Linked DNA regions of Homo sapiens. The protein of the gene in region 1 purifies or fractionates together with the protein of each later gene. This does not show direct contact. Each region holds a gene or a part of one and is shown in the gene's direction. Other genes may lie near its edges.

What was found. Proteins that work in one complex are often made in the same cells at the same time.
Region 2: the proteins of PCOLCE2 (region 1) and SERPINA12 purify together in Homo sapiens (affinity purification with mass spectrometry; one large-scale study listed by BioGRID and IntAct). This does not show direct contact.
Region 3: the proteins of PCOLCE2 (region 1) and STRN purify together in Homo sapiens (affinity purification with mass spectrometry, with the first as the bait; one large-scale study listed by BioGRID). This does not show direct contact.

Annotation. Positions count from the first base shown.
Region 1 is NC_000003.12:142,885,459-142,891,196, reverse strand, and holds the start of PCOLCE2 (procollagen C-endopeptidase enhancer 2 precursor), read left to right. Parts: upstream 1-2,113; 5' UTR 2,114-2,300; coding exon 2,301-2,383; intron 2,384-2,737; exon of another isoform or gene 2,738-2,933; intron 2,934-3,419; coding exon 3,420-3,528; intron 3,529-5,738. UniProt on the Homo sapiens protein: Binds to the C-terminal propeptide of types I and II procollagens and may enhance the cleavage of that propeptide by BMP1.
Region 2 is NC_000014.9:94,499,470-94,502,969, reverse strand, and holds part of SERPINA12 (serpin A12 precursor), read left to right. Parts: intron 1-3,500. UniProt on the Homo sapiens protein: Adipokine that modulates insulin action by specifically inhibiting its target protease KLK7 in white adipose tissues.
Region 3 is NC_000002.12:36,851,537-36,855,036, reverse strand, and holds part of STRN (striatin), read left to right. Parts: intron 1-3,500. UniProt on the Homo sapiens protein: Calmodulin-binding scaffolding protein which is the center of the striatin-interacting phosphatase and kinase (STRIPAK) complexes.

The DNA of each region.
Region 1 (5,738 bases):
TATGTGTTTTTAAGAGCCAATAATATGGGTTTTAGTAAATTCTAAAATCACATGGTAAAATCAATGTCTTATGAGTGTCAACAACAGAATGATTGGTGTTAAAATCCTAACTCTTTAGTGAGCATATGAACACAGTCATCAATCTATAAATTAAGAAATGGCTGTGTATTTTAGTTCAAATAGTTTCCTATTTAGGCACATTTAATACTTTGTTATTTATTTTAAATTTTGAAAACTTAGCTTAGTCCTGAATGAAGTATTTTCTGGTTTACGAGGACTGCAAATCATTACCAGAAAGTGAATTGAGCAATATTTCCCTTTATAATTTAAAACTATGACTTTCAAATAAACAATTATCTAAAAACACTTATGCTATTAGATAGCATATTCTTGAAATGCGTGCAAAATCAACAACCATTTATTCTCCTCTTCCCTGTTTTAAAGACATTTTTATTGGGTTGAGAGTGTTTCAGGATATAAAGCAGTTTGCCAAATTCTGTCACCCTTTTTTTTAATGTCATAAAGGGTGTGGTGCCTGTAGAGAAGTTTTGAAAGTTGTACTTTATGATGTTTTTGCCTTCACTTTTTAAAAAAATGGTAAGATAATCTAAGTCCTGTCCGTATATTCTGGTTCCTAGTATAGGCTTCAGGGTGCACTCACTATGAAAAGTCAGAATATTTCCTGTAGCCAGTTTTACTTACTTCCTTGCCAGGAGTGTTTAGGTTCTTTTTTTTTTTTTTTTCTTTTTTGAGATGGAGTCTCACTCTGTCGCCCGGGGCTGGAGTGCAATGGCGTGATCTCGGCTCACTGCAACCTCCGCCTCCCGGGTTCACGCGATACTTCTGCCTCAGCTTCCCGAGTACCCGGGATTACAGACGCACACCGCAACACCTGGCTAATTTTTTGTATTTTTAGTCGAGGCGGGGTTTCACCATCTTGGCCAGACTGGTTTCGAACTCCTGACCTCGTGATCCGCCCGCCTCGGCCTCCAAAAGTGCTGGGATTACAGGCGTGGGCCATCGCGCCCACCCGTGTTTAGATTCTTAACAGCTCATTATTAGAAATAAAGTCTCGATAAGAACTACTTTAATACTTAATTTTCTTGCTTAGAAAGGTGAAAACAATTTAGAAGGAACAACGTGAGGCATCAAAGTTAAGCTGTATCTCCCATAGCTGGTGATTATTAAAAATCTCTATGAATCTAGTCTGTTCCTGTCATTCTTTTATTAATCCCTGGTTATTGGGAAGCTCTTAACAAAATAAATGTTTAAAATTATATTTCTGTAATTAAGTAAAAGAGAGTATTGATTCCACAAGGCTAGAATTGTTCGTCTAAGAAAAACGAATTCTCCGTAAATTTTAACCCGTTAATACCACAGAAAGATGCTGTTGGAAAGGTCTAAGAACAGAGAGATGCAAGCAGAGAAACACCATTTTCAGAACATGACATGGGATGGTGAGATTTGCTGATTTGGTTCCGTCTTCATTATCTGACATTTAATGACAGTTCACACAGAAATCGCTCGCCTGAAAACCCGTGTTTAAATCCCGGCACAGAGACTGTCTTCCTTGTCATTGTCATACCAGTAAAAAAAAGAAAAGTATCTAGAGAGAGAGAGAGGAGAATAAGCACAGAAGTTAAAATACAATAAAATCCCTTTTCCCTTTCTTTCCTTGGATCTGGGTTTTGAAGGAGACAAAGAAGGACCCCCAGGCTTTCCAGCAGCCAGCAAGCGCTATTACTTTTTATTTAAAAGCAACTGGGAAAAACATTCCCCAAAGCAAAACCAGAAGCCCTCCCTGAGAATCGTCTCTGGGCGTCGGGGCCCGGGCCGCTGGGGTGCCACTCCGCAAGGGGTTCCTCTTCTCCCCGGGGTCCCTGAGGGCTGGACGAGAGAGGACCCGTCGGTCCCGGGGTGCCGGGAGGAGACGTTCGCCCGCCCCACGAGAGGGGGCGGCTCTGGCCTCGGAGCCGCCCCTCCTGCCGCCGGAGAACAAACGGGATATTCAGCAGTGGCCTGTGGCTGCCAGAGCAGCTCCTCAGGGGAAACTAAGCGTCGAGTCAGACGGCACCATAATCGCCTTTAAAAGTGCCTCCGCCCTGCCGGCCGCGTATCCCCCGGCTACCTGGGCCGCCCCGCGGCGGTGCGCGCGTGAGAGGGAGCGCGCGGGCAGCCGAGCGCCGGTGTGAGCCAGCGCTGCTGCCAGTGTGAGCGGCGGTGTGAGCGCGGTGGGTGCGGAGGGGCGTGTGTGCCGGCGCGCGCGCCGTGGGGTGCAAACCCCGAGCGTCTACGCTGCCATGAGGGGCGCGAACGCCTGGGCGCCACTCTGCCTGCTGCTGGCTGCCGCCACCCAGCTCTCGCGGCAGCAGTCCCCAGAGAGGTAACGCGACCCCTGCCCGGGCTCCCTTTCTCTCCTTTCCCTTCCTCCACCCCTGCAGCCTCGCCTGCTGCTTTACTCAACCCGCTTCGGCGCGCCTGGGTGACCCAGCGCTCGACCCTGCGCTCCCGCGCGGTGCAGGCGTCCGCCACCCTCGGGTAGGCTAAGCCCGGGACTTCGGGACCCATCCTTGCTCGCGGGGCTCCCTCCTGGGTCCCCAGCCCGGCCTGCCGGATGGCCCTGCAGCTGGCTTGGCCACCACGTGGCGGGGCTTAATCTGACTTGTGTCTCCCCTCTCCTCGTGTCTATGGGGCCAGAGGGAAGCACTGGGGCCCAAATATGTGGATTTTGGTTTACCGCTGTTTTTTTTCCTTCCCCGAGAGGCTTTGCCCAGAGACGTAAACTAGGGAACAACCCTAGCGGCGCGGCGCCTAGGGAGCCGCTCCGGAAAGTTAACTCTTCGCCAACCTCTGGAAGGCCCCAGGAGCTGGGCTGTGGGACCTGCCCGGTGGCCAACTTTGGCATCACCTCTTCAGCCTCCATCAACATCAGCCTCCCTTTCGATGGGAAGCTCTGCCAATGGCGAGTGATTTTCAGAAAGGGGGAGGAGAACTGGGCATCTCTCCAAATATGGGAACGACAAACTTTTTTTATATTAACCAATTGCTTGCCTGTCTTTCTTTAAAACCATGCTTCTCATTCAGCCTGGCTCTTACCTTCTCTCCCACTCCCCCAGTTAAATTGATGTATTTACCATTTTCCTACAAGACTTTGCCACAATGCCGAGGACTTGATTATACATATATATAATCTTGTGTTATTATGATGGAGACAGATGGCGCTGGACTGAATGCTTTGTCAGGCTATAATTTAAATATTCTAGGAGCTAGCAAATTTTCAGATCCCTTATATGGTGCAAGCATTGATTAATCAACATTAACTTTTATTTATATTAATAGGCTACACCTTTCTGAAGGTAACATCAGATTGTTAGACCATGTTTCAAATTACATTATCTTTTCTTCTTTTATGTTCCCAGACCTGTTTTCACATGTGGTGGCATTCTTACTGGAGAGTCTGGATTTATTGGCAGTGAAGGTTTTCCTGGAGTGTACCCTCCAAATAGCAAATGTACTTGGAAAATCACAGTAAGCATTTTTTAAAAAGGTATTCTCCTGGAAGTGGGTGTTGGCAACAGTGTGAGGCTGCTGCCTTTTTCCTCTGGTGTTAGGATTTGAGTAAGAGGCAAATGCCTGAAATAGTGAAATGTTGGATTTACCCCAACTATTGGGAAGATTTTTATTAATATAATAGATCTAGTCGTGTCCTGCATTAGTGATTACAAAGGGCACAAGATAATGCTTGAAGGAATAAATTCTCAGAGCAGATGTGTTTCTGAAAGCCCAGTGTGACTCAGTTGAGTTTTATAGATTCATAATTAAAGCTGTTTTCAGTCAAAGGCCTGTTGTAATGACCTTCATAAGTTTTTTGTTGCTCGTGCCTTCATAAATTCCCAGTGGGAAATGGAAGATCAAAGATAGTGCTTTGACTACTCTATGCTCATTAGGAAAGGAAAAAGAAAAAAAATAAAAAAAGCCCACTTAATGTTCCTGGGTTGAAACCACCTCTAAAGGCAGTCTAAGAATAGAGAATGGGGGGGTGGGAATCTAAATAGCAGCCAAGGGCCAATAAAAAGTCCATGCTGATTAGTAATAACATAGATTATGCTGAGTCAAGATAAGCTGGATTTAGAGACAGCCATATATTTTTTAACTGATTTAGAGTCAACTAGAGTGAGTCATCTTTCCAGTCAGCATAGCATTGACTGTTACCTTCTTCACTTTTTCGTTGTTGGGAAGTTGTTTAGTAATTGAATACGTTGGTTCACTGAGAGCTTCTTTCAGTCAGATTGTGCCACTGGAGGACTTAGATTTTTTAAAAAGTAGCCCCCACTGAATGTGTAAACTAGCAGTTACTGTGTGCCAGGCATTTACCATGCCAAGTAGTTAGCAAGTATAATCACCCAGAATCCTCAAAACAACTGTATGAGAAAGTATCTATTATCATCCCTATTTTATAGATGGGGAAGCTGAGGCCTGAAACAATTATAGAAATTGACTTGATCAGACAGTCGGGAAGCCCAACTTTATGTAAAAGTAAAACCTACTTTGCAATAAGGTATTCCCACTGAGGTCATTTTGCAGGCAGATATGAGAGGTCCCCTTCCATAATATAAAACTCAGCTCTTACATGCCTTGACGGCCTCTTGTAAAATGCCAACCATGTCACAAACTGGTACAGATTTCATTATGTTATTATAGCACATGTGGCCAGGAAAGAAGTCATAGAAAATAAGTTTGAAATACTATTAACATAAATGTCAAATAAGTCTCTGAAACAAAAATAAAAGCAGCTTGATTTTCATGTCGTGATTGTGTTTTAAATGTAATTAAATGGCCATAAGTTTTAAACGACCCTAGAAAATCAATGGCTCAGAGGCGTCATGTGCCCAAGTAGAAATTCATGGTTGGCCATGTGTTCTGAGTATTGCGGACAGGTTGATGTGACTTTACACTTTGACTGGGGTTGGGGGGCACGTCCAGTGAAAGCTTTCCTTGATAAAGGAACGGTTTGCCTCAGGAGAGGCATGATTTCCTGTGTGGGAGTGGGGAAGTTAAATGGATGCTCCATCTGGATGTCCTGTGAAGGGAAAGCCTGTGAGCTCAGCAGTCACTTCCCTGGATTCAAATTCCAGTTTCACCGCCATAAACTGTGTGTCCAGGATCTACCTCCTTTAAACCTTAGGATTACTGTGAAGACAAAATGAGATAGTGTAAAATGCTTCAACTCAGTGCCTGAGTGGGAAGAAGCTTGATTTGTCTGAAGAACAAATTAAGGAGGTTGGAGTGGCTGGAATGGAATGAGCAAGGGGACAGTGGGAAGAGAAGCGAAGAAGGTAAACAGGACTCTGTAGGCCACGGTGGAGAGTTTGAATTTTGTTTTGAGTAGGAGTCACTGGAAGATCTTAAGCAGAGGAATGAGCTTATCTGGTGTCTGCGTGGAAGATGAACTGTAGGGAGTTAAGAGTAGAGGCAGAGAGACCAATTAGGAAGCTGTTGTGGTATCCAGGAGAGGGAAGATGGTGGAGTAGACAAGGTGGTAGCAGAGAAGATGAAGAAATGCGGAGTCTTCTGCCCACAGTGTTTTCTCAGCAGCTCTGCCTGCGGTTAGGATATAGTGGCACCAGCTAGAAGGATACATGCACCAGGCTCTGTCTCCCTGCTTAGCCATTCCAGACAGGACTGTGCTCTACTATGGCCTTGTCCAAGGCCATCTATTAAAGGTTTTTCCCACGCTG
Region 2 (3,500 bases), on another chromosome or scaffold:
CCCAAGTGCTGCACATTCCAAGAGGCGCTCAGAAAAGGTTCTGAGGAAAGGTGGCATCTCAGAGGGCCTGGGGTTCCTGGGGCAGGAAGGGGTTTCTGGGGCAGGAAGGGGTGTCTGGTGCATGCAGCCAAGTGTAGGAAGCATCTCCCCGATGAGGAGGCAACACACTGGTTGCCTGAAGCTCGCTCTGTTGGTTCTCAAGACATGGGAACTTGTCCAAAGCATTCTAAACTTTTTGGTCTCATTGGCTTGAGGAAGGATATTACATCAACTCTTTCTAGCCAGTCAGTTTCATCCCAGGGAAGAGAGGTAGGGTGGTCAACTATCAGGAGAGGAGTGACCTGCCTGGGGGCAGGGGGAGTTCTCTCTAAAGAAAACTGTGGTTCCAAACCACTGTGCACTGAGTAGACCTTCTGTAGCCTGTGTGTGTTATCCCTGTTTAGGTATCATTTCTTCAAACTGTGGTGATAACGGGGGAAGCGCTTTGTAAAATTAGAAATATTATTATTGTTGAGTCTGCTGTCACAGCTCACTGTTGCTTCAGTTGGCTGATCGGGACGGTGTGGGAGGTGGAAGCAGTGCCCTCCCACAGGGAAACCCCTTCTCGTGTAGACTTAAGCCGCCTATGCTACCTGTGCGGACGCTTCCCATCTGGTTTGGATCTGTCTTTAGGATGAATGACTTCCGGGTCAGTGAGGCACTATTTTATCTAGTCATAAGAGGAGGAAATTATTTTTCCAAATTAATAGGGAACATGGGAGCAGGATGATCAGAGAATTGAAATACTGACTATAGCTTCATGTGTCCCATGTGTACCCCATGGGGTTCGGTTTCTATCTTGTTCTTTTTTTTTTCTTGGTTTTGTTTTAGTTTTATCTCTTTATTTATTTTGAGTCACAGCCAAACACACACAGATACACACACACACACACACACACACACACATTCCAAACTAAAAGCCAACAAACAATTGCTCAACTCAGGAGAGCAACCTATCAATTGATTGGGAAATAACCAGTTGCTCAGCTATTTTAATTGATGGAATTAAAAAATTAGCCTACTCAGGCATCTAACCCAACTGACAAATTTGGGTCAGTTTAAAGCCCGTGATGACAGATGGAAAGGCCCGGAATGGGGCTGGTGTTGGCTGTTTGGGGGAGAAAGGCCAGATGTTCGCACTCAGGGAGCCAGGGCAGGAGGCCCGGTGGAGACTGCTGTGACACAGGCATGCTGAGGTGGGAGGGTGCTGAGACCCCACCAGGCCAGGGTGTGGGCTGTGTCCCTTGGGGCGGGGGTGGGGGGGCGGGGAGGTGGTGGCAGTGCCACCTGATCAGCAGTATCTCATGGGGGAAGAAACCAAATTATCACCACCTCCCCCTCATTTAATAGATGAAGATACTGAAAGCCTGAAGGGTGAAGAGACTTGCATCAAAACACCTAACAAACACACAAGTTGGGGAGGACCGCTATCCAGACCTGGAATTCCATAATCCGTTCTTGTTTCTGAAACTTGACAATGTTTAGGGATCAGTGACTGAACATCACTGTAAAGCTGTGCGTGCCACAGAGTGTTCCCAGGATGGTGCTTTCTGTGGGTTCCTTCCCTGCTCCAGCCCTGCCCTGCCCGGCCTCCTCCAAGGCTCCTGCCAGGCTGCTGGTTTCACCGCTGCTGAGAATGTTTTCTCAGCTCAAGGGACATGTCTTAACTTCTCCACTCCTAGGCACTGGGAACTTGCGCCCACTCTGAATAGCAGAAGCTTCTATTTTTAATCCAGGCAGCCTTTGTAAACAGTGCAGCCCCCTAAACCCTGAAATGGACTCCTTCCTATTTTCTTTTGTTTATCTGAAGCATTCTTGGGAATTTTACTAATTTCTCTTCTACAATCTGTTTTCAGCAGCCCATAGAGCCCTTGTTCATCACCAGCTGTTATTAAGTTTTACCAAGAAGTGGTTTTTGGGGGTAGAAGGTGCTTAGAGAGCACCCAGGTTCAGAGAGGGAAGTGCTTTCTGGAATGTCACACAGCTACGAAGGCATGAGAGCAGAGCACAGAACTCCTGCCTACTTAGTAGTCCTGGCGTTTTAAAAAATATGTATCTGCCCGTATTTGTGAGGATGTTTTTGGCTTCAAGGAAGTGACCATGTAACTCAACGTCACTGGGGGTCCAGAGGCAAGGTGGGCTCTGGGTTCAGCTTTTTCCATGGACCCAGCCCCGGTTTCTCTTAAGAGCCCTTGGATGCATCCTCTTTGTGCTATGGCTTTGTCTTAGAGTCACTTCCCTCACGGGGCAAAGTTGCTGTTAGTCCCTGCCTGCCGTGCCTTCCTGCCCAGGACATCCCAGGAAAGAGACAGGCCAGCACCCCAACATTCCAACAAACAGTCTTGAAATCCTCCCTCATTGCACCCCTTAAGCCACATGCCCCTCCCTAAACAAGGATCAGGGCAGAAATTCCCGCCTGCACTGATTGGATTAGGTCTGGCTCCTGAACCAACCAGTAGCAGGAGAGTTGAGATGCCCCTGCACCAATCAGGCCCTCCCTTGGAGCTGGGAGGGGCTTGTGTCCCTGAGGCACATGGGCTGCCTGAGAGAAGAGTATATTATTGAAAAGAAGAAAAAGAAAGAGAAGATGAGGAGAAGAGGATAAGAGGAGAAGAAGGCGAGGAGGGGAAGAGGAGAAGAAAGAAGAAGAGGATCTATTGGGAAGCTGGGAGAATGGATGCTGAAGGAGCAATGAGCAGTATTCACTAGAATTTTCCAATACTATACTACAAACTCCTTGAAGACCTTTGTTGTGATCAAGGCTCTATCCACAGTGCTTGGCGTAGAAGGATTTGGACATGAAGAACCTGGGAACTGGGGACACTCCTAGGTACAGGCCCTGCCTGGTGTTCATTCATCTGCTTATTCAGCCAACCAGAAAGAGCCAGGCATGGGAGTTTAGCTGTGCAGACCCCGTTGGTGGCTGACCCAGTTCCCTTTTGCTGGTGCTGCTGTGAGGGTTGCCTGCTGACAGCTCACAACTGCCCTCCCCTCTCCAGAAAATTGTCCTTGGCTGATAAGACCTAACTGACCCAGTTATGCACCATGACCTGCATCCAGAGGACAGATCACAGCCACCAACTGACCGATTCTATCCAAAAGGCCAGCCTGGAGAGCCCTCCCACTGTGGACCAGGCCAAGGCTAGATGTCACCTTGGCTCCTTCCCTTTTCCATCCCACTTCCCTCACTTCCCTACAGGGAAGACAACTGCCTCAATACATAACATGCACCTAAATCCCCATCTCAGGTTCTGCTTCTAGGGAACCCAATCTAAGACAACCATGAAAAACCTTTACTGTGGACAGGCTGACTATTACCCACAGATTACAGACATGTAAGATATAAATTACAGGAAGAAAGCAGACTAAATGATATAACAGATGACCAAGCAAAGAAATCTGCCTTCGTTTTACATATAAATGGGTGTGACCATCACTGACAGTAGTATGTCCAACCAGAG
Region 3 (3,500 bases), on another chromosome or scaffold:
TTTATGTACATTTATAACTATACTGTTTGAAATAGCATTTGAGCTGTTATGGGTCAAGTTTTATTTTATACTAAATGATTAATTTTCAATTCTATTTGAAGAAAGCCATATTTATTCTGAATAGGAAATTCTATTTTTCATTTCTCGTAATTTCATATTTTAAATCAACTTAATTTTATATTAATAGTATGATTTGGTACAGCTCAATACAGATCATGTTGTGGCACTCAGAATTCCAAACCTGAAGCTTCTTATTGGATGCAGGAAGTCAGGAAATAAGTGCTTTTTCAGGTTATGAAGAAGATATTACAGACTCTTTTTTGGTTTTTGGCTTTCTTAACCATTGCTTTCTGTCGTTAGCCATAATCTAGACAATCACAGTTTAGGTTGCAGTTGATGAAGAATACGACATACATATACTCTTGTTTTAATCTGAGAACTAGCTTTAAAAGTGATGATATGTTGTGTGTGTGCACATGCATGTGTGAACATGTACATGCATATGTTTACATATGTTCTTGTGGTGTTCTCACTCTCTGTCTCTCTCTCTCTCAAAAAGTTTCTTTATTCCTTTGTGGTTTTCATCATTTTCCCTTCCTAACCTGTTGTTCATTGTTTTCTTCTGATATGCTGAGACTTGTTTGGGGAAGTAAGCATGAATAGAACTTTGAGCTACTTGGATGTAAACGAGAGAGACAGGAAAATAAATTAAACTCAGGTGATAGAATTGGAAAAGGAGAATTTTTTTCAGCAAGAAATTACAGGTTTTAGACTCTCAATAAATTTAAAATCATGTTTAAATATATGACTCAAAGCTACAGTAGCAAAATAAAAAACTAATATGAAATTAGAAAGGATGAGAACATTTTTGTAATTACCTTCAGAGATTATATGGCCAATTTGTGAACATCCTGAGTGGAAATAGTGCTTTTTAATGACTGCAGGTTAATAAGATGTCAAGTCTGGTAGATAAGATGGATAAAGAGAACTAGGCGAGTGAATCCACATTTTCCCCCAAGAGATGTGACTCTAAATTAATAGGACTTTTTACTTGACACTGGAAACATTTTGAGAAAACTTCCAAGAATGTTTTTAACAAAGGCAACATTACTGGAATAAATGATCATTATTTTGAGTTGTAATATGTCCTGACATTTTCTAAATTATGTTTTTTACTTTTAAAGTTGTATAAAGAAAACTTAAATTAGTCTCTTATTATGTTTTACTGTGAACTACCCCTTGTTATTTATAATTGATTGTGTTGTTCTGTTTTGGAATTTAGCATATTTTTTTAAAAAAATGAAAGGACCAAACAAGCTTCAAGGAGAAAGTGAGTTTTATATAGAGTTTAAAGTGATGAAGGATGTTTGTTAGAATAGGAATAAATTACCCTTCTTCTCATTGATGTCAATGGCGATTTGACTGTGGTAAAGTCAAAGGTAGTTGAAGCAGATACGTCACAAGCTAGGTATGAGTAGTGTTCTTTGCATTCTGCCGACTTCTCTGATTTATCATCAAGTGGAGAAGCTTCCTTAAAAGTGTTACCAAATAAGAACTTTCTTTTGCCTGTTTCCATGATTTGATTTCAATCATATTTATTTTCTAGCTCTCAAAGCAATTGAGGCTATTCTCTGAAACGTCTCTCTCAGAATATATGGGATATTTCACTTAAAGTATTTCTTTTTTTGTTGTTACTGTTATTCTCTTGCTGGACTTTACCACGGGTGTTGCTCAATGGAGTATTATCTGTGGAGGAAATAATGCGTAGTCTGAATTTTATAAATAAACATCTCTTTGTTTAGGATCTAAACCAGGTGTAACTGACTAAGAACTTACTCCACATGGTCAAGTGAGTTTTTGTTTTATATTTATTTTTTTTTGAGACAGAGTCTCGCTCTGTTGCCCAGGCTGGAGTGCAGTGGTGCGATCTCAGCTTACTGCAACCTCCACCTCCTGGGCTCAAGCGATTCTCCTGCCTCAGCCTCCCAAGTAGCTGGGACCACAGGCGTGTGCCACCATATCTGGTTCATTTTTGTATTTTGCGTAGAGACAGAGTTTCACCATGTTGGCCAGGCTGGTCTCGAACTCCTGACCTCAAGTGATCCGCCTGCCTCGGCCTCCTAAAGTGCTGCGATTACAGGTGTGAGCTACCGTGCCCAGCCACATTTTATATTTAAATAACAGGCTGGGTAATTACCTGCCACTAGCATTGGGAAAAGACTGTCTTCAGTTTTTAAGATGTTATATTTCTAGGAGCCACATGAAAATCCTGTAAGATTAGACTATTTTTAGCTGTATTTTCTATTATGTGAATATAAACTTGTAATACCTATTCTAGGGTTCAAAAAATTTTTTAAACTCTATTTTGAAATAATTTTAAACTTGCAGAAAAGGTACAAAAATAGTACGAGAACTTCTGGCTACCCTTCACACATATTTAGCAGTTTTTAACATTTTGTCACATTTGCTTTTTCACTCTATATATGTGTATAATTTTTAATTCTGAACCATATGAGAGACGTCATGCTCCTATTCCCCTAGATCCTTTAGCGTGTAATTCTAAGATCAAGGGCATTCTCTGATGTAGTGTATTACAATGATCAAAATCCGGAAACTTAACATTGACACAATACTATTATCTGAATTACTATTTATATTCAAATTTTGAGAGTTGTTCCAGTAATATATTTTACAAGGACACCCCTTCCTCTCCCTGGACCATAATTTAATTTTTAAAACTTTGACATACCTTCAATTAGTGTTTTCTTTATGTCAGTTTTTCTTTTCTCTTAAAAAAAGCTTAACAGAAATCACTGAGGTTTTAAATTACTGATTTCTTTTTAATAAAAGCCTTTCAGGAAGAATGTGTGATCATTTAGGAACCAATTTTGACAGTTGTGTGATCTGCATGAACCATCAGGTTGGGAGAGAGTCAGAAGTTAGAATAGGTACTGATTTTGTCACCTGATTGTGGAGGAGTCACAACTTTTTCTGAACCTTGATGTGTTCACTGTAATATAGGCTTAATGATATGTGCTTGCCTGTCTCATTGTGTGTATAATTGAAGTTTCTTTGGAACTTACTAACACAAAAAATACAGTTAGGATGCTGACTTTTAGGATTCCAAACCTAGTTCTGTCAAATGACCATTTCTATTATGATGAGGAAGAGTGATAAAGGGATTTAAGGATTAAGAAGCCCTCTTTGTCATATATATCTTTAGATGATAATGATGTGATACAGAACTTTGTATGCAAAAAGAGCTGAGATTTAAATTTGAGAATTATCTCCATGTAAGTGATGATAGAACTTACTTAAAGTAGCAAAATCTCACAGAACATTGTAGAATGAACAGCGTTAGTGGCTCTAGACTAAGCCATAGATGGCACCCACATATAGCAGGAAATTGTAATTTATAAATATTTCCAGATTTATCAGGCAATTCTCTTTCCTAACATTGAAATTTTGAAAACAGTCACAGAATAAATGAACTAAAGACA